4 linked regions of the Homo sapiens genome follow. The protein of the gene in region 2 interacts with the protein of the main gene of each other region in a pairwise test. Each region holds a gene or a part of one and is shown on either strand. Other genes may lie near its edges.

The links.
Region 1: the proteins of MKRN3 (region 2) and CCDC185 interact in binary tests that used the Homo sapiens proteins (3 or more experiments, as listed by UniProt).
Region 3: the proteins of MKRN3 (region 2) and PKN1 interact in binary tests that used the Homo sapiens proteins (3 or more experiments, as listed by UniProt).
Region 4: the proteins of MKRN3 (region 2) and RBM41 interact in binary tests that used the Homo sapiens proteins (3 or more experiments, as listed by UniProt).

Annotation. Positions count from the first base shown.
Region 1 is NC_000001.11:223,388,759-223,395,989, reverse strand, and holds CCDC185 (coiled-coil domain-containing protein 185), read right to left. Parts: upstream 2,576-7,231; 5' UTR 2,515-2,575; coding exon 643-2,514; 3' UTR 525-642; downstream 1-524.
Region 2 is NC_000015.10:23,560,906-23,568,548, reverse strand, and holds MKRN3 (E3 ubiquitin-protein ligase makorin-3), read right to left. Parts: upstream 2,876-7,643; 5' UTR 2,767-2,875; coding exon 1,243-2,766; 3' UTR 505-1,242; downstream 1-504. UniProt on the Homo sapiens protein: E3 ubiquitin ligase catalyzing the covalent attachment of ubiquitin moieties onto substrate proteins.
Region 3 is NC_000019.10:14,464,304-14,471,328, reverse strand, and holds part of PKN1 (serine/threonine-protein kinase N1), read right to left. Parts: intron 3,765-7,025; coding exon 3,688-3,764; intron 3,612-3,687; coding exon 3,536-3,611; intron 3,454-3,535; coding exon 3,362-3,453; intron 1,989-3,361; coding exon 1,812-1,988; intron 1,578-1,811; coding exon 1,515-1,577; intron 1,418-1,514; coding exon 1,341-1,417; intron 1,167-1,340; coding exon 1,024-1,166; intron 755-1,023; coding exon 647-754; intron 559-646; coding exon 478-558; intron 1-477. UniProt on the Homo sapiens protein: PKC-related serine/threonine-protein kinase involved in various processes such as regulation of the intermediate filaments of the actin cytoskeleton, cell migration, tumor cell invasion and transcription regulation.
Region 4 is NC_000023.11:107,108,798-107,115,822, forward strand, and holds part of RBM41 (RNA-binding protein 41), read right to left. Parts: intron 6,760-7,025; coding exon 6,555-6,759; intron 4,672-6,554; coding exon 4,600-4,671; intron 3,742-4,599; coding exon of another isoform or gene 3,707-3,741; intron 1-3,706. UniProt on the Homo sapiens protein: May bind RNA.

The sequences.
Region 1 (7,231 bases), on a different chromosome or scaffold from region 2:
TGCGGCATTATTCACAATAGCAAAGACTTGGAACCAACCCAAATGTCCAACAATGATAGACTGGATTAAGAAAATGTGGCACATATACACCATGGAATACTATGCAGCCATAAAAAATGATGAGTTCACGTCCTTTGTAGGGACATGGATGAAATTGGAAACCATCATTCTCAGTAAACTATCGCAAGAACAACAAACCAAACACCGCATATTCTCACTCATAGGTGGGAATTGAACAATGAGATCACATGGACACAGGAAGGGGAATATCACACTCTGGGGACTGTGGTGGGGAGGGGGGAGGGGGGAGGGATAGCATTGGGAGATATACCTAATGCTAGATGACGAGTTAGTGGGTGCAGCGCACCAGCATGGCACATGTATACATATGTAACTAACCTGTACAATGTGCACATGTACCCTAAAACTTAAAGTATAATTTAAAAAAACAAAAATTCCCAAAATTTTCTCTCCGACCCTCTAAACTATCCAAGTGAATCAATAAACCAGTTCATGAGAGGAAATTGCAGCTATTTTACATGCTTTTTTAAAATCAATGTTCAATTATAATCAGATTACAAAAGGAATCACATTGCCACATCTCCTTCTGGCTGCGCACTGTAAGCCAGGCGTCCTTGGTTCTCAGTAACCCCTGTTCTGCTGACAGGCACGGAGCTGGGCCTCTAGTACCATCTGATCAAGGGAGCTGTTGGGAGGCGCTCTCTCCTCTCTCCTGGAGGCCTGAGGGAGCTTCTGGAACTCCTGGAAGTTTGGGTCTTTCCCTTGGGAAATGTGCTGCACCCTCTGCTCCTTTTTCTTAATGGCCTCCTTGATGCCCTCAATGTGACACTTTTCCTCCTTCTCGGCTTTCAGTTTCAGGATGTGGTGGTTTTTCTCCCTCAGGTGGTTGAGCTCCCGGAGGTGCTGCACCTTGTCCCTAGTGGTCTTGTGCACGTGACTCCTGGCCTGTCGGATCTTCTCATCCGCCAGCTCCACCAGAATTCTTTTGCGCATCTTCCTCTGTTCCTCTGACTCCCCTGCGCGCCACCTGGCCTGCTGCAACTGCTCTTCCTCCTTCTGGGCCTTCTCCCTCAGCTCGCGTTGCCGCTCCTTCCTCAGGCCCTGGTGTATCTCCTGGGACCGCTGGAAACTTTGTTCCAGGGACAGCTGCCTAAGGAGCTCCTCAGCCTTGGCCTGGCAGTCCATGAGGACCTTCCGGGCCTGGTAATTGATGAGGGAGCTCAGGTTGGTGTCCTGGACCTTCTTCTGGCCCTCCACGGCATGTAGGTGCCTCTTGCGACAGGCTTCCACCAGCCTCCTCTGCAGCTGCAGGCTGTGCTGCTCCCGGAGGTTCCGTAGCATCTTCTCCTGCTCCCGCAGGCGCCGCACCTGGCACTGTTTTCGGTGCTCTGCCTGGGCGCGCGCCTTCTCCAGCTTCTCCTGGCGCGGGCTCTCCTGGTCCTCTGGTTGCTCCTTCCACCGGCTTTCCCCCGGGGGCACGTTCTTCCTCTGGCTGTCCCGCCGCAGGCCGCGCTGCTCAGGGCTCTGGAGGGTCTTGCGCTGCTCCTTCTCCTGCCACTGCTCCTGGCTCTGCCGCAGCAGCAGCCGGCGCTCCCGCTCCAGGGTCATCTGGACCTTCTGATCCGAGCGCTTCAGCTCCTCCCAGGCCTTAGCCGCCTGCTGCTGCAGCTCCCGTATCCTCTGGGCCTTCTTGAGACGGGTCAGCACCAGGGCCACAATCTGCTGGTCCTGGGAGGACACCACCACCTCTTCCAGCTTGCTCTTCAGGACCTGGGTGTGCGGGCTCCGCATCTCTTTGCTGGAGGCCAAGGGCTGGGAGTCCCGGCTGGCTAATGACTCAACCTGGTCGCTGCTGTCTCTCTTCTGGGCGCACACGCAGGCTGAGTGCCTCTTGAACTTTTGCGAGGGCACAGAAGACCGCTCCGAGGGAACTGAGGAAGGGGACCAGCGACCTAGATGTCTGCCGAGTGGCACTGCCCACTGGTCTCCACCCTGTGCCTTTTCTACCCTGAATGTGCCACTCAGGGGAGTGCCAGCTCCTCCGGGGCAAGGCGGGGGCGAGTCTCCCTGGGCCAGAGGGTAATGCGGGCAGGGCTGCGGCCGCTGGGGTGGCAGCTGGGTCTGCGGCTGCCAAGCCGGGCGGGGCTTGGTTCCTGTCTCTCCCCAGGCATCTTCCAGGCGCCTGCTGCGGGGCCGGTGCTTCCTGGAACGTTCCAGGGGCCTGCGGGCCACATCGCTCAGGCTTCGGCTGCCCCGCAGTGAATCTGAGCACCCGCGCCTGCGAGGCCGCGGGGTGAACGAACAGTGCGGGTGCAGCCAGCACGCCCCAGCTTCGCTCTCCGCACCCGGAGTCCCGGCCCGGGAGCACGCGGTGGAGTCGGCTCCGGACCTCTGCCCGCCCAGCCGCTGCGTGGACTCTCGTTCTCCGCCGGGCCGCGGGGGTTCCCAGAGATCCCGGTAGGGCGGCTGGGAGAAGTGGCTGAAGCCTGCCATCCCTCCCTCTGGGCACGCGCAGCGTCTGCCCAAGGGGCCTGAGACCTCCCGAGGACGCTGCAGACACCCGCCCTGCCCCCCGGTCCCGAGGTCCGGGTCGCCTGTGACGCTCGGGCCACTTCACAATGCGCCTGGCAGCTGGGTCCTCGCAGTCTTCAGACCTTGCCCGGCGCCGCCCACCCCAGCTTTGCTAGCACCCGGAGCACCTGGAATGGGAAGGACAGGAGGCTGGGGATGGGGGTGGTGGGGGTCGGGTGGGGGAGAGAGGGGTTGTATGTTGGAGGAGGGAATATGTAGGAAATCAGGGTGACATTTAAAGCTGAGGGTGCATAGTGTCCCCCACCAGTGTTTCAGGGAGAAATTTGAACTCGCATTTGCACACAAACAGCAGGATTTTAAGAGAGCCCAGGTGAAGGCGTCACCCTCAGAATGGAAGGGGTGGGGAGAAGGGCCGGGGTGCAGTCTCAGGGAGGAGGTACCCTTAGCTGCAGAATCACCGTCCTGCACGTGTGTACCTCTGCAATGTGGTCAAATAGAACGGCTGTGGACGCGACACCACCCATTTGCCTTTTAAGTTAGCAAGCCCAAAGTATGCTTTAATGTTTACTTTTTAAGATTTTTAGAAAAGGTAGAAGACGACTCTATTTCCTAATATGGTAATTACTGCTTTTGTCAAAATGTGAATGCTGCGTGCACATTTCTGCAATAGCATTAGTGAACACCATGTTGAAATCACATTTTTTTTTCCCTTTTCCTCCAATTTTGTGGGATTCTCGTTCCTTGTTGAGGCACCCTTGGCTAATGGGAAAAGCACTGGATCTGGTAGAGAAAAAGAATTTGAATCTCCTCTACCACTCTTCACTCATGGGCTCTTGGGCAAATTCCCTAAGTTTCCCTGACCTCCAGTTCCAGCAAGGTGGAATGGGAAGTGGGGCCTCATCATATGGGCATTGCAGGACTGTTGTGAGGGTCAGATGAAATTATGCATCCAGAGGTTGGCACCAGAATACATTCAATAAATATTATTTTGGTGCCATGCTAAGCGTCAGTTAAAAGTTTTAAGGGTTGGGCTGGGTGGTGGCTCATGCCTGTAATCCTAGCATGTTGGGAAGGCAAGGCAGGAGGATTCCTTGAGCCCAGGACTTAGACCAGTCTGGGCAACATAGAGAGATCCTGCTTCTATATAAAAATTTTAAAAATTAGCTGGACATGGTGGGTGCATTTGTAGTGCCAGCTACTCTGGAAGCTGAGGTAGAAGGATTGCTTGAGCCCAGGAATTTGAGGCTGCAGTGAGCCATGATTGTGTCACTGCACCCCAGCCTGGGCAAGAGTGAGACTTTGTCTCAAAAACAAAGTGTTAAGACTTAAAGTAATATATGAATTTACAAATATTTCTGCAGATTCCTAGCTTAAGAAAAGAATGAAATTAATGTAATCCTAAAATAGTTTAAGTAAAGGATAGAGTGCTAGAAAGGGGAGACTCCAAGCTCTGTCGTGTCCACATCATACTGTGGATCTTGGCTAAGTCATTTCTCTTCTCTGGGGTTGCTGTGGTCTGAAGGTTTGTGTTTCCCCCAAATTCATATGTTAAAATTCTAACCCTCAAGGTGATAGTATTAGGAGGTGATTAGGTCATATGGGTGGAGCCCTCATCAATGGGATTAGTGCCCTTATAAAAGGAGCCCCAGAGTAATCCCTCATCCCTTCTGTCACGCGAGGACACAGTGAAAAGATGGCCATCTCTGAACCAGGGAGAGGATCCTCACCAGACACCAAATCTGATGTCTTGATCTTGGACTTCTTAGCCTTCAAAATGGTGAGAAATAAATTTCATTCATTTATATGCCACCCAATCTGTGGTATTTTGTTAATAGCATCTGGAAGAGACTAAGGCAGGGTTGCAATGAGGAAACAGTTCTGGATAGCATTCTCCAAGTATGACCATTCCTTAAAGAAGAAAAATGAGTATTTACCCACACCAGTCCTCTTCATTCACGTCTCCTTGAAGCATCACAGCAACCCCAGCTAGGAAGGACCAATAGCCTTGATAATATTTTCCACTGGACAAATCTGGGACTTGGCCATATTAACTGATTTCCCCAGGGTCACTTGGTCAATGGCAGGAGTTTTGACTTCAGATTTACTTCTCTTTCCATGATAGCGTGCTGCCTGCCTCTCGGGGAATACACTTTAAATTGAGCCATGCTTTTAAGAGAATTATGATCTGATGTACAGCAGAGGGTCATGGACACCATGTCCTTGAAGCCACGTGGTAGCAGCCTTAACTACAGTGGAAGGAGCCACTCTGCCTGGTTAGGATCTCACCAGCATGTCTATAGCTGGGGATAAGAAGTTTTTCTACCCTAGATTTTATTGGCACCATTTGTATCCTTGTTAAATAAATTATTTTATGTGAATATAGTCCTTACTAGATGGTAATTTAAAAAGTAAACCAAATTTGAATGGAATCATTTAACTTTTGAAGTTAGGAAATTTTTTTCATGTATTGAGTTGTGCTGATAGCTGAGTGTCATATCTCTCTGTTGATGCTTTGTAAAACATTTTGCAGGGACAGGTCAATACCCAGGCTACTCCCATAGAGCAGTGTTATGTGGGTGAAAGTATACTCACCTGAAAGCCAGGAGACCTGCCACCAGCCAGTTCTGCTAGCAGCTGAGTCACCTGAGCAGTCATTTCACCTTTCCTCATCCCTGTAAAGTCTCTTTCAGTCCCAAATGCAGCTGGAGAAAGGGTTCAATCTAGTAAATGCTTCAGCCTTTGTTCTGTAAAGCAAAAATGAGTTAATCCATGAAAAATGCTTAGAGCAGTGTCTGTCTGCATGTGGTAGCTGCCTTATAAATATTAGCCATTAGAATCATCATTATCATTATGCCAAGAGCACTAAAACCATGGCAGCGTAGAGCTGAATTTAAAGACTTAGTTTGGGATGGAGTCAGAATGAGAACCCAAGGGCTCAGATTTCCAGTTCGGGGCTCTTTGGCCTCTTGCTTCCTCTGAAGGTTCTCAGGATTCCTCAGGGAATTGTGTATGGCTCACTCACCTCTGCTGACGATGGAATAAAGGACACAGTCTTCACTTCATAATGTCACACACATTTATTGATAATCTGGGCCAGGATTAGAAAGATGATATTGCTATGAGAAACAGGTCTGGGTAGCAGATGTTTTAAGTGGTTAAACAGTTCACCTTAACAGATTTCCCAGGGGAAGGTGGGGGTGTGCTCTGTCTGAATTGTTTATAAGAGAGGGCTCCATACAGGATGACACTGGAGTGAAACCTGGAAGGACAGTTAGGATTGTCCAGACAGGGATGAGCAGGAAGACACCAGGCCGAGGAAGCTGCATGGACTGCAGTGTGGAGCCTCGAATGCCTGGCACATTGGGGTTGTGTGATTTGTGTAGCAGGGGCATGGAGAGTGTGTGCAGTGAAGTGGCAGGTGATGAGGCCAGAAAGGTAGGCTGGGGCAGATTCTGGAGGGCCTGCTATGCCAAGCCAGGAAGCATAGACATCCTCCCGCTGGGCTGCAGCATCCCAGCTGTGTCCGGAAGAGTTCCGGGATTCCTCAGAGCTGTGTTGGGCCCAGAGGGGCAGGGCTGGAGGACTTTAGGGCAGGCTCTGAGGCCTCTGTCCTTGCTTTACCCAGGGCAGCTTAGACTTTATCTGTTTTATATCTTGGAGCTCCTGATAACACTTCACTGAAAAAATTTGGGGTTCTTCTGTTTCAATCCTTTTTTATGAGGGTTGAAATCCACTGTATAGATCACAGGGAGAAGTCAATAAAACTCTTGAAACCAGGAAAGAAACCCAATGGGATCTAGATTTTAGAAAGCTCACCCTGGCAGCAGCGTGGATGATCAATTAGTAGGCTGGTTCAGCAGTCTGGGTGGGCAATAAGGAAACGCAAACCAGGGCAATAGCCAGGGGACAGGAAGGAATGGATTGGAGGAACAGGTCAGAGTTTGAGGGTTCATGTCATGGGGATGCTTTGATATGGAGAAGGAGGGTTTCTAACCCAAGTGGCAGTGATAGCAGATCTCCAGTCTAGGTGATCTTGAAGACAACAATCTTGGAAATTTGGTAAAAGAAGTTATAATAACAAGTGACCCCTACACAGAACAGCAAATAGAATGTCTGGAGTAAACCACCAAAACTTGAAAGAGAAACCTCTTCCTTTGAGGGTCCTGGTGGGGAAGCTCCAAGCCTTAGCACATCGTCACAGAGCCAAGGAAATCTTCCTCACCTGCATCTGTAGCCTGTTATGGAGACCCCTCAGAGGATCCCAGGCTGGAAGCTAAAGTCAGCTCTTTCCTGGGGCAGACGAAGGAGATGTTTTGCAAATGCTACACTGCCAAACATTCCCTTGATACTAAGAACAATCATTTTTATTTGGCAGAAAAAAATCCTCAATGTATTTTGCTGGATGCCTTAGAATGTGAGCCTTCTGCCAAATGAAGACCTGGACCTCCTAATTTGTTGGAGACTTGGCAAATATGGCAGAATGTGCTCTGACCCCACAATTCAAATTCATCTGTGGAATTGAAATGCGTTCCACGCCCTTCCTCAGAACAGATTGTTAGCTGTTGTGGTGACTTCCAATTCGATGTCTTAGCAGAGCATCTAATTCTGGGATGGGTCAAATGGGAGAAAAAAGCTATAGCTACTCTGTCTAATATGGCAGCCCGTACTCATACATGGT
Region 2 (7,643 bases):
CTGCTTTCATTTAATCTAATTAAGTTGTATGTAGATTTTCTATATTAGTCTTACACTTAGTTTTTAGTGCTTTCTATATTTTATTATTTTATCTTTCCATTCTTTTATTCTCATTGGTTTTAATATTTTTGTTCTATTTTCCCTTTTATAATCTTGTTACTTTTATGTTGAACTCTTTTGTCAAAAGCCCCTTGTTGGGAAAGTCTAGAGACTTTGTATATCAAATACAAAGCACTGTGCCTCTGAGCCTAGGATTTGCTGTTACAAAGAATTAATGAGAAGGTGGCTAAACTGCATAGGAAAACCATTTCTGTATTTATAGAGTAAGCTATTAATGCCATTGTAAGAATTACCAATATAGTGCTTTGTAAGTCCTCTAAGATCTGCATCTGTCACATTTGGCCAGACCCACTTGAACAGTCCTTTTCATTAGATGCTAATTACTGGCTTCTGTGCGAGGGACAGAAAGATTATTCACACAACTCACATCCACACAACAGCCAATCCTGTTAGGCTTTGACCTTCAGCTTTCAGCTCTGTATTTACTTTATTACATAAACATAAATATTATATTGTGATGTATATTCTTTTATATATTTTTTTCAAATACATAACTCTTATACATATATATTTTTATATATATAATTCTTAAATATATATTTCCAAATATAAATTATTTCATGTCAAGCTAAACAGGATAAAAACATGTAAACATATACACTTGGTTTTGGTCAAGTAAAACACAAAATCACAAGTTCATCACAGTTTAACAAGTGCACTTGAAGGGGAAGGAGGGAAAGAACAAACTGTAAACAAACAGATGAGCAGCTGCAAAGCCCTGCAAGGGTCCATTTGTTAAGGCTATTATAGCACAAAGCTACTAGTTCAATTAAAACTTCTCCTTTCACTCTGCCACATTTACTCTTGAGGGTCTTCAAAATAAGTGTGGAAATTCAGTAAACACTACACTAGAACTGAGTTAATCCTGTTGACAACAGAGATGACAAAAAAAAGCCATAAGCTGACATTAATATTAATTTCACCAAAACAGTAACTTTAAGGACTTATTTTTTAACACAGATAATCACCATAATCCTAGGGGGAAAGATATGCAGAATAGACAAGAAAACAGAAGCACTGCCTCAACAGCCCCTGAAAGCAGTAAGAGTGTCAACACAGGGAAAACAGGCAATAGCAGACGACAGAACCTCAGCAGACTAGACCACATGCCACAGCACGATGCTACAGAATCAAATTGAAATATTCTTCCAGCTCATAATGAAGCAAGTCCCACTGGTCCTCAGAGAAGGGTAACTCATCTCTCAGTGAAAGAAACCGCTTAAACAACAGACTGGCCAGCCGAAGCACGACAAGCTCCTTCTTAATGCTTTTATAGAGCATGTTGCCCTCTCCCATTCGCACAGGCTCCACAAGTTGATGCCAGTATGCGCTGAATGACCCACCACCTGGCCCAGGAGGCTCATCTCCCCAGCCCTCAGGGTATTCATGCTTGTAAAAGCATGTGTCTCCAAATGGGCAGTTACCCCTGCCTTCCGCAAAATACCTGCAGGCCTTGTTGCTCATTGCCTCCTTGTATTGCTGAATAAGTTTCTGCTTCTCTTCCTCCTCCTCCACCCAGAACTCACTGGGAATGACCAATTCAGAGGTGACCCTGCACTGTGGGCAAGACTTGACGATCCTGTTCTCAAACTGTCTGGCACTTCTCCACCTGCGGATACACCTAATACAGAAGGAATGGTTGCAATTGGAAAGAATGCCAAAGCGGCGGTCATTGGGGTTGGCCTTCTCATAGACAACCTCCATGCAGATGCCACACACCTTGTCCATACCACGCTGCACAGCAAACGAGAGTTCCATATCTTTCTCGTGTGCTTCAATGCAGGCCCTCATATGTTCTTCCCTCTGGGCAGCATCCATGGGGTGCAAGGTCTGCAGCCCACACATGTCGCATATGTCTCCATGGAGGTACATACAGCTCTCCCCACGAAAGCAAACTCCCCTGGAAGCATAATAGCAAAACCGCAACCCACTGCCCACAGCCATCTGCTTCCTCTCAGTCTCTGAGCTCTGTAGAGGAGCCTCGGGGGCAGATGCAACCCAGCGGCCCCGGTAGGGCTGCCCTGGAACAAACTCAATGGCATCCGCCCAGCTTTCTACACCTGCTCCTCCAGCAGCTCCACGGTCTGCATTGTCTCTCTCGGCTTCAAAGAAACCCCTTTCAGCAGCCGAGCCAATCACAGGCAAGGAAAGGGAGGATGCAGCCGGGGGGGCTTCCGCCACTTCCTGAGTCGGGGGCTCGATGTGCGCAGCCGTGCTAGGGCCTCCACCTGCAGAGGCCCCAGGCGGCGAAACGCCACCCTCAGTGGCCATCTTCCGACCAGAAAGGTCGTGCGAATAGCGACAGTTCTCCCCCTCCTTGCACTGCCCATGTATATAATACCTGCAGATGATCTGCTTTGTCCAAATGCCGCTGCTTCGGCTTGGCAACGGACTGGGCCAGGCTCCTCCTCCTGAGGCTGGGGCAGGCCTCAGGCCTCCTCTGCGGAGGTGGGCAGGGACTGGAGCTACAGGGAAGGGGGCCCAGCCCCTTGCCGCATGTGGCAGGGCTGAATCTGGAGCAGCAGATTCCCCGGAGGGCTCACAGACGGGAAGGTCCGGCCCAGACACACCCTCCCTTGCTGCCTCAGCACCTGCCTGGGCCCCGGCTGCCTCGTGGGCTTCTGAGGGAGCTGCAGGCTCTTCCATGGCTGCTTTGGCACCCCGAAATGGTGCCAGAACCTCTCCGGTATTTTTTCTTTATGGGCTTGAGGCCCGGAATGGCGGCCGCGCTCGGAGGCTTCTCTGGGGGAAGTGTGCATCTCTTTTTCCTTCCCCCCTGCTTTTGGGTCCCTCTGACTGTGTGTTCCTACCTACTTCCGGGCACAGGCAGCATGGCGGACACTTCCTGTGGGGGCAACGTACGTGCTCTGCCTGGTTTTTACCGCAATTTTCCAATCTGACATATTTTTTCGTTCACACAGGCGGGGACCAACCCAGCCCCTTTTGTCTGCCTTCTGCCTCTGCTTCGCTGTGTTCCGGCAGTCCCTAAGTCCCTTCTCACACGATTTCCTCAGGAGAATGAGGTTTTACTTTAATCTCTTCTGGTTTCGGTCATGCACGCTTCGTTGTATTTTCGTATCTGTCTGCCTTAAAAAAAATATAATCCTATAGATTCTGAAACATTTCATCCATGAATTATATAAATTCTTTTTTTATTCACTCCATCTTATGTCTGTGGTTTTTTTCTTTTAATGCCCGATCGCGGCAGGAAGCTTTTTTCAATTCGTTCGGTTGACAAGGCGCCGTTTCTTTTGGTCTTTGTTTTCTGGGATTTCTGAGGGCTTACACTGGATACGCTTTTCACCAGCAAGGCATTAGCAGAGAGCACTTCTGATCCGAGGCTAAGTTAGCACCTTTCAGATGTCTTTCTTTATTGTGATTACTATGCTCATTTTCCCACTGTGTTAGAAGCGCCAGACTTCAACCAGTCCTGATGCTGGCCTAATAAGACACTGTCCCCTGCATGACCCAGGCTTTTATTTTCTCTACTGGTTTAATTCATGGCAGCCCTTTGTTTCCCTTCCTTTCTTTCAACCCCATCTGTGCTGTGTTGTGGCAGGACAGCCTTTCATAACATATCCTGTGCCATATTATCCACAAAGGAATGGTCTTTAATTTCCATGTATGAGCGTTTTGTCATTTTTGCAGATAAATGTAGTAGATTAATCATTTTTTTGTATTCCTACTTTGCTGAGAGTACGTATCATGACTGCATACTGAATTCTGTTATGTAGTTTTATACATTTTTTGAGACAATTTTGTTTTTCCCTTTATTCTCTTAATGTGATTATTTGCAGCTATGAGTTTCAAATATTTAACTAACCAATTTGTTTCTAATAAGAAGCCCTTCTGTCATGATATATCATTTTATATATTATTGGATTTTTTTTCTATAAGTTTCTTTGAGGAAATTTTGTTGCCTAAATCTGTAAAGTGGAAACATATCTGAATATTTATAATCACCCAAGTCAACAAATTAAATTATAATTAAGTAGGTAAAAGCAATGAAAGCAGAATGAAGCAAATAATAAGGGCAAGAAAAGCAATGAAGAAAAACAAATATTAAATAAGGGAAATAAATTAAGTAAAATCCCTTAAACTGCTTATTGAAGCCAGATAATTTCTGGTGAAATTTATCAAGGAAAAATGAAGAAGGCTCTAATACCCAAGATCAGTAATTTCAAATATGTTATCACTACATTAATAACAGACATTAAAAATCATTAGAGAATATCAGGAACAAAGTTAGGAGATAAAACTTGAAAAGTTACATGAAATAGTCATATTGGTGGAAACATCTATTAGTAAAAATGACAGGAGCAGAAATACATGTGAATATGGATCTGTTAAATTACATCTGTAATTTAGATAATTATCTAAATAAAGGTCTCTAAAACTTTCTCTCTGAAATAAATCTAAAGGCAAAAAAAATCTGTATTTATTATTGCAAGTCCTAGCTAGTGTAATAGCAAAGAAATAAAAGATGTTATAACTGGAAAGAAATTATTGATGGAATGCAACAGAAAATTGAGAATAATTTACAGATAAGCTATTAGATTTAATAGGTACATTTAGCAAGGACACTGGACAGGAGTCCAATATATGAAAATCATTTTTATTTCTCTATCATCAATAACATTTGAAGTAAACATTTAAAATTAATAACATTCATAACAACATTAAAAGTTAGCTAACCTAGGAATTAAACTAATTAAGGTTATACAATAAAATTAAAAACATTTTAGCTTCAGAAGACCTAAATAAATTGTGGGATACTTTATATATAGTCTTTATAGTCGGTCAGTAGAAGGCTCAATGTTTTTAAAAGGTAGTCTTTTCCTAATTTGATAATTATTTGAAAATGGTGCTGATTATTCATCGTGAATGTAGGAAATGTTGGATTTATCTTTCTCCTTTTCATAGTTACCAAGTTTTATATTTTGCATGCAAGCTGTCCCAAAGTCTGCCTCACTTGAACTTTCTGAAACAAACTTTCTCTTTATCAGGATTTGTTTGTCAGCCCCAGTGATTTTTACAAGAAAAAGACTTGCAGCACAGCTCTCAGGCTTCTACGCCAAGCTCTCTACAAATTCACAAACATAAGAATCCTGAATATAAAATTATTACTGGCTTAATTGTGATATTTTCCTAGCACTGCATCTATTATTTGCTTAATTGTGATATTTTCCCAGCACTGTATCTAAATCATATTTGACCCTCTCTTGATGCACCAGCACTGTCCAGAGGAACTTTCTGTGAAGAATTTATATATATGCATGCTGTACAGTATGAAAGCTAGCCCCATGGGGTTCTTGGGCACTTGAAATGAGGCTAGAGTGACGGAGGAAATGAATGTCCATTTTTTAAATTATAAATTTAAATAGCCACATGAGGCTAGTAGTTACTGCATTGGAGTGAAGTTCTATACAATATTTGACCATCTCATCTCCTAACACAAGGGAACTGAGAAGCATATGTTTCCTCACCTGCCCAAGGCTATGCAGCTGGTGCCAGGCAGTGTTTGCTTCCAAATGCCCACCTGTGTGGCTGCCACTGGTGTTCATGTCTTATAGTCTGATAGTGACTTTATCTTTTAGTTTTGTCGTGACAATATTTCATATAAACTGTTATAAGCCAATATTGTATCCCATGATTTTAAATACCATAAAAAATTGAATAACTGGAAATAACTGGGCAGTGCATCTTGAGAAAAATAAACTAGTTCCCATCCTATCCAAATGTCTTCAGAGATCATTTCCTCTGACTGCCATTGTCTATATTCCTGCCATGATATATACATATGTATATTTTTTGAGCATCAATATTGTTTTTACAGTTCTCAGAAAGTAGACATTTAGTCATTTGTCTAGTTATTTGGCTCAGCTGTGCCTTCTTTTCTAACAAAACACTGACAGCCTCAGAGGCTGGGACCTGGTTTCCTTGTGCACACACCAGTCTGCAGGGTAGCATGGGATCCCCTGGCCGGTCAGCATTTGGGGGTCCGAATGGAATGAGTGCAAGGCTGGGCGATGGCAGAGCTGAGGTGAAGTCCGGGCAGTCTAAGAATATCCTAAGAGGAGGGAGCAAGTTCAGAAGTGAACTGCAGGATGGAGAGAAGCTGCAAAGTCCTGCAGTTTTTTACTCCAAACAGCTCAGGCATGCGCTGCCTAGCCCCGTGTGGTTAACATGTCCGTATTTAAAGAACACACAATTAATTGCCTAAAAGCATTATCCTTCTCAGCACTCTCCTATCCTTCAGATCTAACCTTTAGGCACTGCCGGCTGCCGGCGGGGTCCAGGACCCAGCGGGGCTGGGCGCGCGGAGCAGCGCTGGGTGCAGCGCCTGCGCCGGCAGCTGCAAGGGCCGCAGAAATTAAACGCGAGTGTCCAGAATCGGGCATTGTGGGTTTAAATCCTGAATCCACTGGTCACTATCTGAGACTTTCCCCTGTCACAAATTAGTTACCTTCTTTTATCCCATCTGACAACGGGAATAATAACAGCAAGAATTACACCGACTAGTTCACAGGTTTGCTGTATTAATTAATTTATAATAATTCATTAATTCTTATAAAGTGATTGGAACGATGCCTGATCTTTAAGATACCTGTAAGTGTCTCTTCTATTTTAGAACCACCCAAAGAATCCTGTGACTGAAGTCTTTGTGTCAGTCCCTCTATGTGCACAGCAGTCAGATTTCTATAGGGGCCCTAGAAATTACTGGCACATGAGAGGTGGTGAATGAGTATTTATTGCCTTATATTGATAGACAAACTGATTTTTATTTTGAAATTTAAAGAGCCAGTTTTCTCCAACCCTTAGTTCAGAAGTTTAGTTGTAGAATACCTTTGTGGAGGATTTCTTGTGCTTTCATCACTTGTGGTAGCAGTAGGATTCTGGCTGGAACAGCACTCCTTTAGCTCATTGTTGGCTGTTTTGAATAGACATCTGATCACCCTGAGTGAATAACTGGATAACAAAAAGTTACTTTAAAATGGCTTTAAATTTCAATATGAATATGAAAAAGAGGTGTAAGTACTCCTACAACCACTTAAAGATCATAAAAGATACTGCTTATACTGATTTTTCTATATTGTAATCAAACACTGAAATTTTCAAGAAATCTTCTGTCTACAGATGTCAAAAATTCAACTACATTTCAACTTTAAGGTGGTTAACAGAATTTTGTCATACTGCTGTATTTTATACATACAAAACATGCTTAATGTCCAATTTGTAGTCAGATGAAATAACTTATCTCAAGCTAGTATTTTTATCCGGAACAAGGATAGAAACTGGTTACTATACATGAAGTAAATGCTTAAAAGACAGGAAATAGTTAATGTGGTGAGTGCTCAGGGGAAAAAAAAAGATGGCCTTAAGTAACCTAAATAACCTGTGGGTGGTAGAAGCAATCACAAAGAAAACTGGAAAATATTTTCAACTGAACAGTAATGAGTGTATAACATGTTAAAAGACTTAGGTTGCACTTAAAGTCATGCTTAGAGGCAAAATTTAATGCA
Region 3 (7,025 bases), on a different chromosome or scaffold from region 2:
GGATCACTTGAGGCCAGGAGTTCAGGACCAGCCTGGCCAACATGGCGAAACCCCGTCTCTACTAAAAATACAAAAATTAGCCTGGTGTGGTGGAGTGGTGCACGCCTGTAATCCCAGGTACTCGGGAGGCTGAGGCAGGAGAACTGCATGAACCTGGGAGGCGGAGGTTGCAGTGAGCCGAGATTGAGCCACTGCACTCCAGCCTGGGCGACAGAGCGAGACCCTGGCTAAAAAAAAAAAAAAAAGGGAAAAGTGGAGATGTGGGATTAGGAGGGTCCTTGGGGGGAACAAAAGTGGAGGAGGGAAATGGGGGTGTCAAAGGAGGTGACGATGTTGCCCTGGAGGTGCAACGAGGCCCTTGAGGCGCAACGAGGCCCTTGAGGCAAAGCGGCTAGGCATGGGGGCCGTCTGCTGTGGGGTGATGAATCGGCCCTGGGGGAGGGCCGGGGTCACTGAGGTCCTTGTGGGGAATCTCACCCTGAAGAAGGGCTGTTTCTTCACATCTTCTGCATCTCTCTCGCTAGATCCCAGCCTCCGCTCTGGGTTCCTCCGAAGCAGCTTGGAGGAAGGAGCACTGTGTCAGGATCTGTCCCCTCCTGGGCCCCACTGCCCCTCCCCAGGCCCGCCCCACGTCGGGGGTCCTCACCCTTCTCATGATGCCGATGGCTTCGGCCGACAGGAAGCGGGGGTAGCGAACCTCGTCGTTGACGATGCTGTCGAAGACCTCCTCCTCATCATCCCCTGGGAATGGGGACTGGGGAGAGGGAGGCCCGGGGTGAACGAGGCCCCTCCTCTGGCTGCTCCAAACCCAGCCCGGCCTGAGCCCCACACTCTGCTGCAGCTCTTGGGTGCTGGCTTACTTGGGCAGGGAAATGCCCCATTTTATAGATGTGGAAACTGAGGCCAGGGAAGCAGAGCCAGCAGCCCTCAATCACACAACACATGGTGGAGGCAGACTTGGATCCCACCCTGGGCACGCGCAGGTTCCAATGAGATCCGAGACACACAGGGGCGGGGTCTCACCTCGCCAACCAGCATCTCGTAGAGCAGCACACCCAGTCCCCACCAGTCCACAGCTCGCGTGTACGACGTGTCCGTCAGCACCTCAGGGGCCAGGAACTCCGGGGTCCCACAGAATGTGCTGGTCCGGTCCCCATAGCCCATCCCTGGGGACAGCAAGGCCATGTGAGGTTATGGGGGCCAGAGGAGTCACTCAGCCCAATGTGGGGTTGTCCACACAGCCAGCCCTGTCCCAGGGTCAGGGTGGGGGGCACCCCGAATAGGGTTAGGGACCCCATTCCTTCCCCCTCCTTTGTCTAATCCAGAGGCCAGCCCCTCACCCTCCTTGCAGAGGCCAAAGTCTGCGATCTTGACGTAGCCCTCGGTGTCCAGGAGCAAATTGTCCAACTTCAGGTCCCTGTTGGGGGTTGGAGGGGTGGAAAGAGGGATGAGCGGGGGTCTGGGTCCTGTCCCCACAACGGGCAGTGTGCACATGCATGCACACACGCACACACCTGTAGACGATCTTGTGTTCGTGAAGAAACTGTAGGCCCAGCACCACGCAGGCGGAATAAAAGCTGCAGAGAGAGAGAGGCTGCTGAGAGGGGTGGGGCCACCCTGCAAGGAGGGAGGGTCACATAAGCCTGGCTTCCACATCCTCAAAAGCCCCCCAGTCTCCCCAAAGCTCTGGGAGGCTGAGGGAAGCAAGGCCTGAGGGTGGAGGGGTGAGAAGCAGGCTGCCAGCCTCTCGGGGGGACTAAGTGTCAGATGCTGTAGGGGAGGCAGGGGCCCGGGCTGGGGTCCAGGCTCACATGGCACGGGGCTCAGAGAACACGTCGCTGTGGATGTGCAGCATCAGGTCCCCACCGGCCGAGTACTCCATCACGAAGCACACGTGCTCCGGTGTCTGGAAACAGCCGAAGAGGTTCACCAGGAAGGGGTGTCCCGCACTGGTCACTGCCGCCAATATCCGCTTCTCACACATCAGGCTGGGGAGGGGTGGGGGATAGAAGTCAGAGACCATGGCCGCCACTTACTCCAGACTCCCAGATGGCAACCAAAGCCCATACAGAGGGAAGCAGAACTGAGAAACGTCATCTCAGCACCTGGATACAGCCATGCCTGAAGGTAGCACACTCCTGGACTTTTCAGATCCAGACCAATAAATTTCTTTACTTGTTTCAGTCTTTCTCAGTTGGGTTCCTGATTATCAAAAGGATGCTGGGAAGACCAGGCACAATCTCAGTGCCTGTACCGAATGTTTAGAGGGGTTAGGCACTGTGTAGAGAGCACCTGACAACCATGTGTGGAAGGCAATAGCATTCTGCTTCTCCACAACAAGAGGGGTTCTTTTTTTTTTTTTTTTTTTTTTTTGAGACAGAGTCAGGCTGGAGTGCAGTGGTGCGATCTTGGCTCACTGCAACCTCCGCCTCCTGGGTTCAAGCGATACTCCTGCCTCAGCCTCCCAAGTAGGTGGGACTACAGGCACCCGCCACCATGCCTGGCTGATTTTTGTATTTTTAGTAGAGACGGGGTTTCACCATGTTGGCCACACTGGTCTCGATGTCCTGACCTCAGATGATCTGCCCACCTCAGCCTCCCAAAGTGCTGGGATTACAGGCGTGAGCCACCATGCCCAGCCAAGAAGCTGAGGTTCTGAAGGGAGAAGTGACCTCCCCAGGATCTCCAAGCCCATGCTGCAGAATTGAGATTTGAACCCAGGAACCTGACCCTAAAGCAGAGGCAGTATGGTGGCACCACAAAGGGCACAGGCTTCAGAGCCTGAGTCTCTAGCTTTGAATCCTGGACCTGCTGCTTACTGGCTGTGTGACCTTGGGTAAATTGCTGAACCTCTCTGTGCCATCAGTATTTATCTTATAGGGCTACATGGAGGAACAAATGAATAACTTTCCTAAGAGCTATTATTATCTTGGTATTAGGCTAGTAGGTATTAGTGACTTTTTGTTTTGAGACAGGGTCTCACTGTGTTGCCCAGGCTGGAGTGCAGTGGCGCGATCTCAGCTCACTGCAACCTTGACCTACTGGGCTCAGGCGATCCTCCTATCTCAGCCTCATGAGTAGCTGGGGCTACAAGCATGTGCCACCACACCCAGCTAATTATTTTGTATTTTTTGTAAAGATGGGGGTGTCACCATGTTGCCCAGCCTGGTCTTGAAATTCTGAGCCCAAGTGATCCACCTGCCTCGGCCTCCCAGAGTGCTGGGATTACAGGTAAGAGCCACTGTGCCTGGCGTTAGTGACTACTATGAGTCACTCTCCCTGTAGCTCCAAGGAGAGAACTGCTCTGTCATTTCCCAAAAGAGAAGAAAGAGGTCCCCAGAGGACCACGGCAGGTCCCCACCTCTCCACCTCGTCTCGGGCCACAATGTCCCCTTTCTTCAGAGCCTTGATGGCGAACAGCTCCCCACTGGGCCGGAATTCGGAGAGGAGCACCTGGAACCACAGTGGGCAGGGGTGGTTTTAGCGGCCAGCCAGGGACCTGGGGGGTCTCCCAATTCCCTGCCCTCCACCTCACCTTCCCAAAATGACCCCGGCCCAGCACCGCCAGGAACTTGAAATCTTCGAGGGTCAGAGGTGACTTCCTCAGAGGGCTGTGGAGAGAGGCCACTGGTGAGAACAAGGACAGCGGGCAGGGGTGGTGGACAGGGGGCCAGGGAGTGGTGTCACCTGCACAGGGCGGGGCCTGGGGTCTCCTGGGTCTCCGAAGGCAGCTCGGGAGCAGTGGATTCCTGGATGGGGGAGCTCTGTGGCGGAGAGAGGAGGCCAGAGTAAGGGGAGTCAGAGATGCCCTCATAACCACAGCAGCCTCCGAGGCCCTGCAAGATCTGCCCCCGACCTCTCTGTCCTCACCTCTCCTCCCACGCAGCCCCTCACTCACTCTCCTCCAGCCACACGCCTGCACCACCATGGCTGGCTAATTTTTGTATTTTTAGTAGAGACGGGGTTTCACCATGTTGGCCAGGCTGGTCTGGAACTCCTGATCTCAGGTGATCCACCCGCCTCGGCCTCCCAAAGTGCCAGGATTACAGGCGTGAGCCACCATGCCCAACCTGAATTTTTTTTTTTAGAGACAGGGTCTTGCTCTGTCTTCCAGGATGGAGTGCAGGGGCGCAGTCATAGCTCAGTGCAGCCTCCAACTCTACCTCCGCCTCCTGAGTAGCTGGGACTAAAGGCATGCACCACCACGTCCAGCTCATTTTTTTTTTTTTTGAGATGGAGTTTCACTCTTGTTGCCCAGGCTGGAGTACAATGGTGTGATCTTCGCTCACTGCAACCTCCGCCTCCCGGATTCAAGTGATTCTCCTACCTCAGCCTCCCAAACAGCTGGGATTACAGGCATGCACCACTACGCCCGGCTAATTTTTTATATTTTTAGTAGAGATGGGGTTTCTCCATGTTGGTCAGGGTGGTCTTCAACTCCCGACCTGAGGTGATCCACCTGCCTCAGCCTCCCAAAGTGCTGGGATTACAGGCGTCAGCCACCGCGCCCGGCCTAATTTTTGTAGAGATGGGGTCTTGTTCTGTTCCTCAGGCTGGTCTCAAACTTCTGGCCTCAAGCGATCTTCTTCGTTCAGCTTCCTGAGTAGCTGGGACTACAAGTGCAAGCCATCATGCCTGGCTTGACAATGTCCATTTTTTATTATTATTTTTTTTATTTTTGAGACTGAGTCTCACTCTGTCGCCCAGGCTGGGGTACAGTGGTGTGATCTCAGCTCACTGCAACCTCCGCCTCCCAGATTCCAGCAATTCTCCTGCCTCAGCCTCCCAAGTAGCTGGGATTACAGGCGTGCGCCACCACGCCCGGCTAATTTTTGTATTTTTAGTAGAGATGGGATTTCACCATGTTAGCCAGGATAGTCTTGATCTCTTGACTCCAAAGTGCTGGGATTACAGGCGTGAGCCACCATGCCCAACCCATTACTTCTACTTTCTAAAAAATTAGATCTATAAAAAATTAGCCAGGTGTGGTGGTGCACGCCTGTAGTCCCAGTTACTTGGGAGGCTGAAGTGAGAGGATCACCTGAGCTCAGGAGGTCGAGGCTGCAGCGAGCCATGACTGCGCCACTGCACTCCACCCTGGATGGCAGAGCGAGACCCCGTTTCAAAAAAAAAAGATAAAAGATAAAATGCATTCAGGCTGGGTGCAGTAGCTCATACCTGTATCTCAGCAATTTGGGAGGCTGCAGAGGGGAGAACACTTGAGGTCAGGAGTTCAAGACCAGCCTGGCCAACATGGTGAAACCCCATCTCTACTAAAACCAAAAATTAGTTGGGCATGATGGCACATGCCTGTAGTCCCAGCTATTAGGGAGGCTGAGGCATGGGCATCTTTGAACCTGAGAGGCGGAGATTGGAGTGAGCTGAGATCACGCCACTGCATTCCAACGCCCATTCTGGGCGACAGAGTGAGACTCTGTCTCAAAATAAATAAATAAATAAAATGCATTCAGTGAGGTGGGCAAGAGGAACAGGTTACATATGCATCCACCCAGGAAACCATCAGCCAGCCTAGGAGTTGGCAAATGCTGGCTGGTGGGCCAGCCTGTTTTTATAGTTTGTAAGAGCTAAGAATGGCTTTCACTATTTTTTTTTTTTTTAAGAGATGCAGTGGCCGGGCATGGTGACTCACACCTATAATCCCAGCACTTTGGGAGGCTGAGGTGGGCAGATCATCTGAGGTCAGGAGTTCAAGACCAGCCTGGCCAACGAGGTGAAACCCCGTCTCTATTAAAAATACAAAAATTAGCTGGGTGTGGTGGGCACACACCTGTAGTCCCAGCTACTCGGGTGGTTGAGGCAGGAGAATCCCTTGAACCTGGGAGGCAGAGGTTGCAGTGAGCCTAGATCACGCCACTGCACTCCAGCCTGGGCAACAGAGTGAGACTCCATCTCAAAAAAAAAAAAAAAAGAGATGGAGTTTTGCCATGTTGTTCAGGCCAGACTCCAACTCCTGGGCTCAAGTCATCCTCCTGCCTCGGCCTCCCAAGTAGCTGGGACCACAGGTAAACTGATTTTTACATTTTTAAATCGTTGGGGGAATAAAAAAAAACAAAAAAAGGAATAATATTTCATTGCCCATGAAAGTTCTACAATGTTCAAACTTCCGCGTGTACTACCAATAAGGTTTTACTGGAATAGAGACACGCTTACAGTGTACATATATCGTCTGTGGCTGCTTTCAAACTACAAAGCAGACAGGGACTGTCTAGCCCACAAAGCCAAAAATATTGACTCTCTGGCCCTTTCTGGAAAACGCGTGCTGACCTCTGACCGAGATCAAGATAAGGAACATTTCCATCACCCGGCAGGTCCCCTTGTGGCTCCCAGCTTGCGGTAACCTCTGCCTAGAGAACAGCACTCTCTCGATCATTCTATCATTGACATGAGTTTTAAATATGCTCGTTTTGCAAAGTGGTACACTGAGGCACAGAGGTGAAGCGCAGAGCCAAGAGGTGGCACGGCAGGGGTGGGAACCCAGGGGGTCCAGCCGCTGAGCTCACAGTTTTATTTATTTTTATTTTTTGAGATGGAGTCGCTCTGTCGCCCAGGCTGGAGCGCAATTGGTATGATCTTGGCTTACTGCAACCTCCGCCTCTCAGGTTCAACTGATCCTCCTGCCCCAGTTGCCCGGGTAGCTGGGATTACAGGTGCCCACCACCGTACCCGGCTAATTCTTGTATTTTTATTAGAGACGGGGTTTCATTGTGTTGGCCAGGCTGGTCTTGAACTCCTGGCCTCAAGTGATCCACCCGCCTCAGCCTCCCAAAGTGCTGGGATTCCAGGTGTGAGCCACTGTGCCCAGCCTGTTTTGTTTTTTGAGATAGTATTTCGCTATGTTGCCCAGGCTGGAGTGCAGTGGCAGGATCATGGCTCACAGTGGCTCACTGTGTTGCCCAGGCTGGTCTCAAACTCCTGGGCTCCAGCAATCCTCCCATGTCAGCCTCCCAGAAGTGCTGAGATTATAGGCATGAGCAGTTTTTTAACCAGGATGGGGATCTGGGCAC
Region 4 (7,025 bases), on a different chromosome or scaffold from region 2:
AGCCTATCTGAAACTGGAGTGGCAGACCAGTTCTGGAGCACCATAAAAGCCCCATCCTTGGAGAATTTTCACTATTTTACCTGGATGGAACTATTTGACCTGCCTGGCACTTCAATGAAAAGCCACATTCTGAGATGTAATTGGTATGACAATTACAGTAGAAAGTATGGGAGGTAGAGAACAGCTAAACAAAGTTTTTTAATATAATTGAAATTAAGTTGGTTTTAATACAAATTAATTTATTTAAGCCAAGAGGTTAATTGTAATCCCCAGAGCAACCACTAACACACACACACATACACAAAAACAGTAAAAGAGGCAAGAAGTTAATTAAAATGGCACATTGGAAAAATCTATTTAACATAAAAGAAGGAATAAATGGAGGAACAGAGGAACAAAAAAGATAGAAGAGAAACAGAAAACAAAAAGCAAAATAGCAGATGTAAATCCTTAACAGACTCTAATTAAATACATTAAAATAAATGAACTAAACTCTCCACTCAAAAGGCAGAGATTGAAATAATTGATTAAAAAGAGAAAATATAATCCAAACTATTTGCTGTCATGAGACACACTTTAGGTTCAAAAACACAAATAGATTAAAAGCAAAAAGATGGAAAAAGATGTCCCATACAAATAAGAACCAAAGTGGAGCTGAGTTTTAGAAATTTGAGTCTTCTTTCTGTTTAACTTGATCAGTCTAGCTAAGGGATTATAAATTAAGTTGATCTTTTCAAAGAACTAACTTTTGGTTTTGTTGACTTCCTCTATTATTTCCTCTATGTCATTTATTTTTGCTCCATTTTTTATTATTTCTTTTCATCAGCTTGATTTGGATTTAGTTTGCTCTTCTTTTAATAAGTTCTTAAGGTGGAGATTTCAGTTATTAATTTGAAATCTTTTTTCTTTATTAATATGGGCATATACAACTATGGGCATTACAGCTAAATATCCCCCTAAACACTGATTTTATTTTACTCCATAAGTTTTTGGCATGCTGTGTTTTAATTTACCTCAAAATATGTTCTAATATTCCTTTTGATTTCCTTTTAATTCATTGACTGTTTGGTAGAGTGTTAATTTCCACATATTTGTAATTTTCCTAAATGTCCTTCTGTTATTTATTTCGAATTTCATTCCACTGTGAACAGAAGTGGCAAGAGTGGACATCCTTATCTTATTTTTGATCTTTGGGGAAGAATTTCAACTTTTCACCATTAATTATGAGGTTAAGTATTAACACACAAATTCGGCCAATTGATTTCTGACAAAAATGCAAAGGCAAGTAAATGGAGAAAGGATACTCTTTTAACAGTTGGTTCTAAAACAACAGGACATTTGAAGCCAAAAAAAAAAAATAAGTGAACTTTAACCTAAACTTCATACCTTATATAAACATCAAGTAGTCAAAATGGATCATAGATCTAAATGTAAAATGTATAACTATATAACTATCAGAAGAAAACATAGGAAAATATCTTTTTCATGAACAGGTAGAGTTGTTAGATACATATAAATGCACATACATAAAAGGCAACCCATGAAAGGATCAACTGATAAACAAGATTTGAAACAATACTTGAAAACATTTTCTGTGAGGTAAAAGACTTATACACTGAAAACTACAAAATGTTGCTGAAAGGAATTAAACAAGACACAAATAAATAGACATCCCATGTTCATGACTTAGAAGACAATACTGTTAAGACATCAATACTAACCAAAGTGATATACAGATTCAATGTAAGTCCTACCAAAACGTCAATAACATTTTTTTACAGGAATAGAAAAATCCATTCTAAAATTCATATGGAATCTCAACCAATCCCCAAATATCCAAAACAATTTTGAAAAAGAACAAAGTTGGAGTTCTCACACTTCCTGATTTCAAAACTTACTACAAGGTTACAGTAATTAAAACAGTGTGGTACTGGCATAAAGACAGGTATATATAGTCAAATGATTTTTGAATAGGGTGCCAGGATCATTCAGTGTGGAAAGAACAGTCTTTTTTCAACAACTGGCACTGGGAAAACTGAATATCAACATGAAAATAATAAAGCTGAATTTTTACCTTAATACCATATACGAAAATTAACTCAAAAGGTTCAAAGACCTAAACATGAGAGCTAAAGCTATAACACTCTCAGAAGATAACATAAGGAAAAGCCTTCATTTCATAACAATGGATTTGGCAATGATTTCTTGGATATGACACCAAAAGCATAGACAACAAAAGAAAAAAATCAACAAATTGGACTTCATCGAAATTAAACACTTTGTGCATCAAAGGACAGAGTGAAAAGGCAATTCTTGGAATAGGAGAAAATATTTGCAAGTCATATATCTTATAAGGAATTAATATACAGAATATATATAGAACTTCTACAACTCAACAACAAACAAGAAACTTATTTTAAAAATGGACAAGAGATCTGAACAGATACATCTCCAAAGAAGATATACAAATGGCCAAAAAGCATGTGAAAAGATGCTCAACAGCACTAATCATCAGGGAAATTGAAATCAAAACCACAATAAGATAACATTTCATACCCATTAGGACGGCTATTATTTTTTAAGAAAATAGTAAGTGTTGCCAAGGGTATGGAGAAACTGGAACTCTTATCTTGTGCATTGCTGGTGGGAATGTAAAATGGTACAGTCTCTATGGAAACTGATATGGCAGTTTCTCAAAAAATTACATGTAGAATTAAGATGTGATCCAGCAATTCCATTTCTGAGTATATACCTACAATAATTGAAAGCAGGTATTCAAACAGATATTTGTATACCCATGTTCGTAGCAGCATTATTCACAAAAGCTAAAACATGGAAACAACTTAAGCATCCATCAATTGATAAACAAAATGTGCTATATACATACAATGGGATATTATTCCACCTTAAAAAGAAAATTCTGACACATGCTACAACTTAGATGAATCTTGAAGATATTATGCTAACTAAAGCCAGTCACAAAAGGACAAATATTGTATGATTCCACTTATATACTGAGAGTAGTCAAATTCATAGAAACAGAAAGTAGGATGGTGGTTGCCAGAGGCTGGTGGGGATGGAGAAAACGGGGAGTTAGTATCTAATAAGTACAGAGTTTCAGTTTGGGAAGATGAAAAATTTCTGGAGATGGATGGCTGTGATAGTTGCAGAACAATGTGAAAGTACTTAATGCCATAGAACTACACACTTAAAAGTGGTTTAAATGGTAAATTTTATGTATATTTTACCACAATAAAAAAAGTTTGCCCTGCAAAAGACACTGTTAAGAGAATGAAAAGACAAGCTACAGACTGGGAAAAAATGTGTGAAAATCACATATCCAACAGAAGATTGTGTTTAGAATATACAAAGAACTCTCAAAAGTCATCAGGAAGAAAATAAACAACCCAATTATAAAACAGCAAAAGATTTGAACAGACACTTTAGCAAACAGGATATAAGGATGGCAAATAAGCAAATGAAAGATGTTCAACATCATTAGCCATTAAAGAAATGCAAATTAAAACTACAATGAGGTACCACTTCACAGCTATTGAAATAACCAAAATAAATACTGACAATACCAAGTGCTGACAAAGATGTAGAGCAACTCGAACTTTCATACATTGCTGGTGAAAATGCAAAATGGTACAGCCACTCTGGAAAATGGTTTGGCAGTTTCATATAAAGTTAAATGTACACTTACCATATGACCCAGTAATCCCACTTCTAGATATTTACCTTAGAGAAATAAAAACTTATGTTCACAAAAAAACCTGTACAAGAACGTTCATATCAATATTATGCATAGCCATCATAACCTGGAAACAACCCGAATGCACTTCAATGGGTGAATGGATAAACAAACTTTGGAATGTCCATATGATGAAACACTACTCAACAAAATAAATGAACTATTGATACACGCAACAACTCAAATGAGTCTCAAAGGCATTATGCTGAGTGAAAGAAGCCAGTCTCACAAGGTTACATGTTGTGTGATTCCATTTACATGACATTTTCTAAAAGATAAAACTACAGTGATGGAAAACAGTCAGTGATTGTCAGGAATTATGGTGGGTTGGGAATGACTATAAAGGGACAGCATGAGGGAGTTTTTTAAGGTGATGAAGCTATTCTCTTTCTTGATTGTGGTGGTGGTTACATGAATCTACATGATTTACAATTCATAGAATTGTACACCAAAAAAGAAGAAGCCCCATGCAATTTTATTGGAAGTTCATTTCAAAAGTAAGAAAATATTAGCTATCATATCATCATCATCATCAATAATTATACTTTACTGACTAATAAAAATATTCAGAATTATTTGTGAAATGGGATCTAAAAATCATTAAGGTCAATTTATGTCTGGTACAATAATTTAAATGTATAGAGAAAAAACAACAGCAGTAAATGTAAAAGCTTTACAACTTCTACTAACTCCTCTCTTTAATATTCTGTATCAGGATAATATGCTCCCTCTGGATCATTTCCTATAAACATTGTCATATACTGAATATGGAATTAAATAAGTGCTCAACTGGGACCCTAGGTTACATTCCTAAGTCTAACACTATAAGAAAACTCTCGACTTGCCTTTTGTGCCTAATTTTATCTTCCTCTTCATTGAGGTCATGTACTTGTCTGCACTTGTCTTTTTGTGGTATGCTGTGAAGGTTTAAAGCAAGGAGTTTCAAAGATAGGAAACAGAACAGATTCATAAACCACCCACCCTCCACCCCAAATACCAGGTACTGCTTTAAGTGATTTACATGTATTCTCTCACTTAATCCTCTTAGTAACCCTGTAACATAGCTACTATTAATATTCTCATTTTACAGATGAAGATACTGAAGCATAGAGAGGTAACTTGCCTAGCATCTCATAGCTAGTTAAGTGGGGGAGCCAGGATTTTCCCAGGCAGTCTGCCTCCAGAGCCCATGTTCTTAATCATTATGCTAAATGTCTCTCCACAAAAGGTTATTCATTTGTTCATTCATTCCTTCCTTCACCACTGCTCTGCCATGTCTATGATCCTTCTATCTCTAACAAATCATTCATCCATTCTCACGGCCTTAACATGTTATCTAAGGATAGATGATTCCCAGTTCTATATATCTAGTTCTGACCTCTCTCCTGAGCTTCACGGCTGCATTTCCAACTGTCTCCTCAACATCTGCATTTGATGATCCTGCCATTCTCACAAATTCCACATGTTTAAAATCAAACTCATCATCCTTCCTCGAAATTTCCCCATAAAGGCTTTCTTAATTTTGCCAATTGGTAAGTCACACAGCCTTGAAACCTCTGGATTATCTTTGACACATACCTCTGCATTGACCTCCCTCCTTCATTTTCAGTCAACGAGTTTTATTAGTTCTTCCATTATAAACCTACCTCTCTCCAATTTCACTGCTATCACTCTAGACCAAGTCTTCATGCCTAAATGACTGTAATATCTCCTATCCATTCTGCCTGCTTCCAGTTCTTCCTCTCTCTAATCCTATTTATTGACCACCAGATTAATAATTTTCAAATATGGCTTTTATCATGTCACTTCTGGTTCAAAAACCTTCAACCATATTGAAACTAACTGATAACTAACTCTGTATAAGTCTATACTAGTTACCAAATACAGTTCAAAATTTTTAGCTACCTTTCTAACCTTGTCTCACATCTCCTCCATAGTTAGCACACTCCCTAGTGCTCACACCATCTGTTGCAACTGAAATGTCATTACCTCTCTTTTCTAAAGAATAGGTAGTATTAAAAGAACATTTAAATCTTACCTCCTCTGAGAGGGCTTCTTCAATCACACCAATACACAGTGGCCTTTGCCTCCTCTGAACTCCAACAACACTTAACAAATGTATCTAGTATTGTCACTAAATGTTACATGTTTATCTCTCCAACCAGACTATACTTGGCACAAGGTGAGGAACCATTTCTTAAACTTCCATGCACCTTCCACAGCGTCTAGTAAAACTTATCTGTCAAACTAAATCCTTCTGGTTAAGACACATACTATTTATCTATATATTTTGTGCTAATTTGTAGTTCAGCCTAAAGACCCTTCACAATCTAGCTTCGCCTCCCCTTCCTTCCAGTGTCACCTCCTGTCATTCCCTGCCACTTCTTCTACTCCTGCCACGTTAAACTTCTCATTGTTCCTTAGACACACCAGGTTCTTTCATAATCCTGTTGCTATTTACTACCTTTAATCTCCATTCCCCTTTATTTACCTGACAAATGCCCATTGATCCATCAGGAGTTAGTATAAATGTCAACTTCTGACTCCCCCAACTAGACTTAGATGCTCTGTGTTCTGCACTACCTCAGCATTTTATTCAAATCTCTATAATAGCAGTTTCCATGTTGTCATGCAACTAACTGTGCACATATTTGTCTCTCTTATGGTATTATACATTTCTCAAAAGTAGTGACAATTTGTCTTTCCCCTATTCCCTTCACTAACTCTTCATATTTAATGCCCTGCTGTTTAATCTTTCTCTCAGTGAAAGAATATATCAAAGTCAGTGGGGATCACATACCTTGGTAATAAAGAGCCTTAAGGAAGGAGTGACGATCAGCTCCCTGAAATAAAGACTTTTCTATTTCCATTTCTCGCCGGGTCAGCTGTTTGCTCTTTGCAAATCTCTGTGGCAGGCAAAGAATGCGCTGACGCTCCGAGATCCTTTCTTCAATATCTTGAAGACGGTTCTGTATTGCTTCAGGAGTTGCCCTCAGTTTTGTCTTCTGAAACCAGAGGAATGAGATGGCATGTATCATAGAGGGCACAACCTGAACATGATGATCTGGTATCTCAAGTAAAAAGATGACCTAGGCCCAGAAATGAATGTTTACAGAAAGTGTTAGCTAAGAAGTTAAAGAACAGCTTCTCTTTTACCAATGTCTGCATTCTAAAAATCAAAGAAGATTCAGACACCAAGCTCAGTTTTGTGAGAACTAGAAATGAAAAGGCTCTCAGTGCTAAAATGAAGATATTTTGCTCTGTTTCTTTG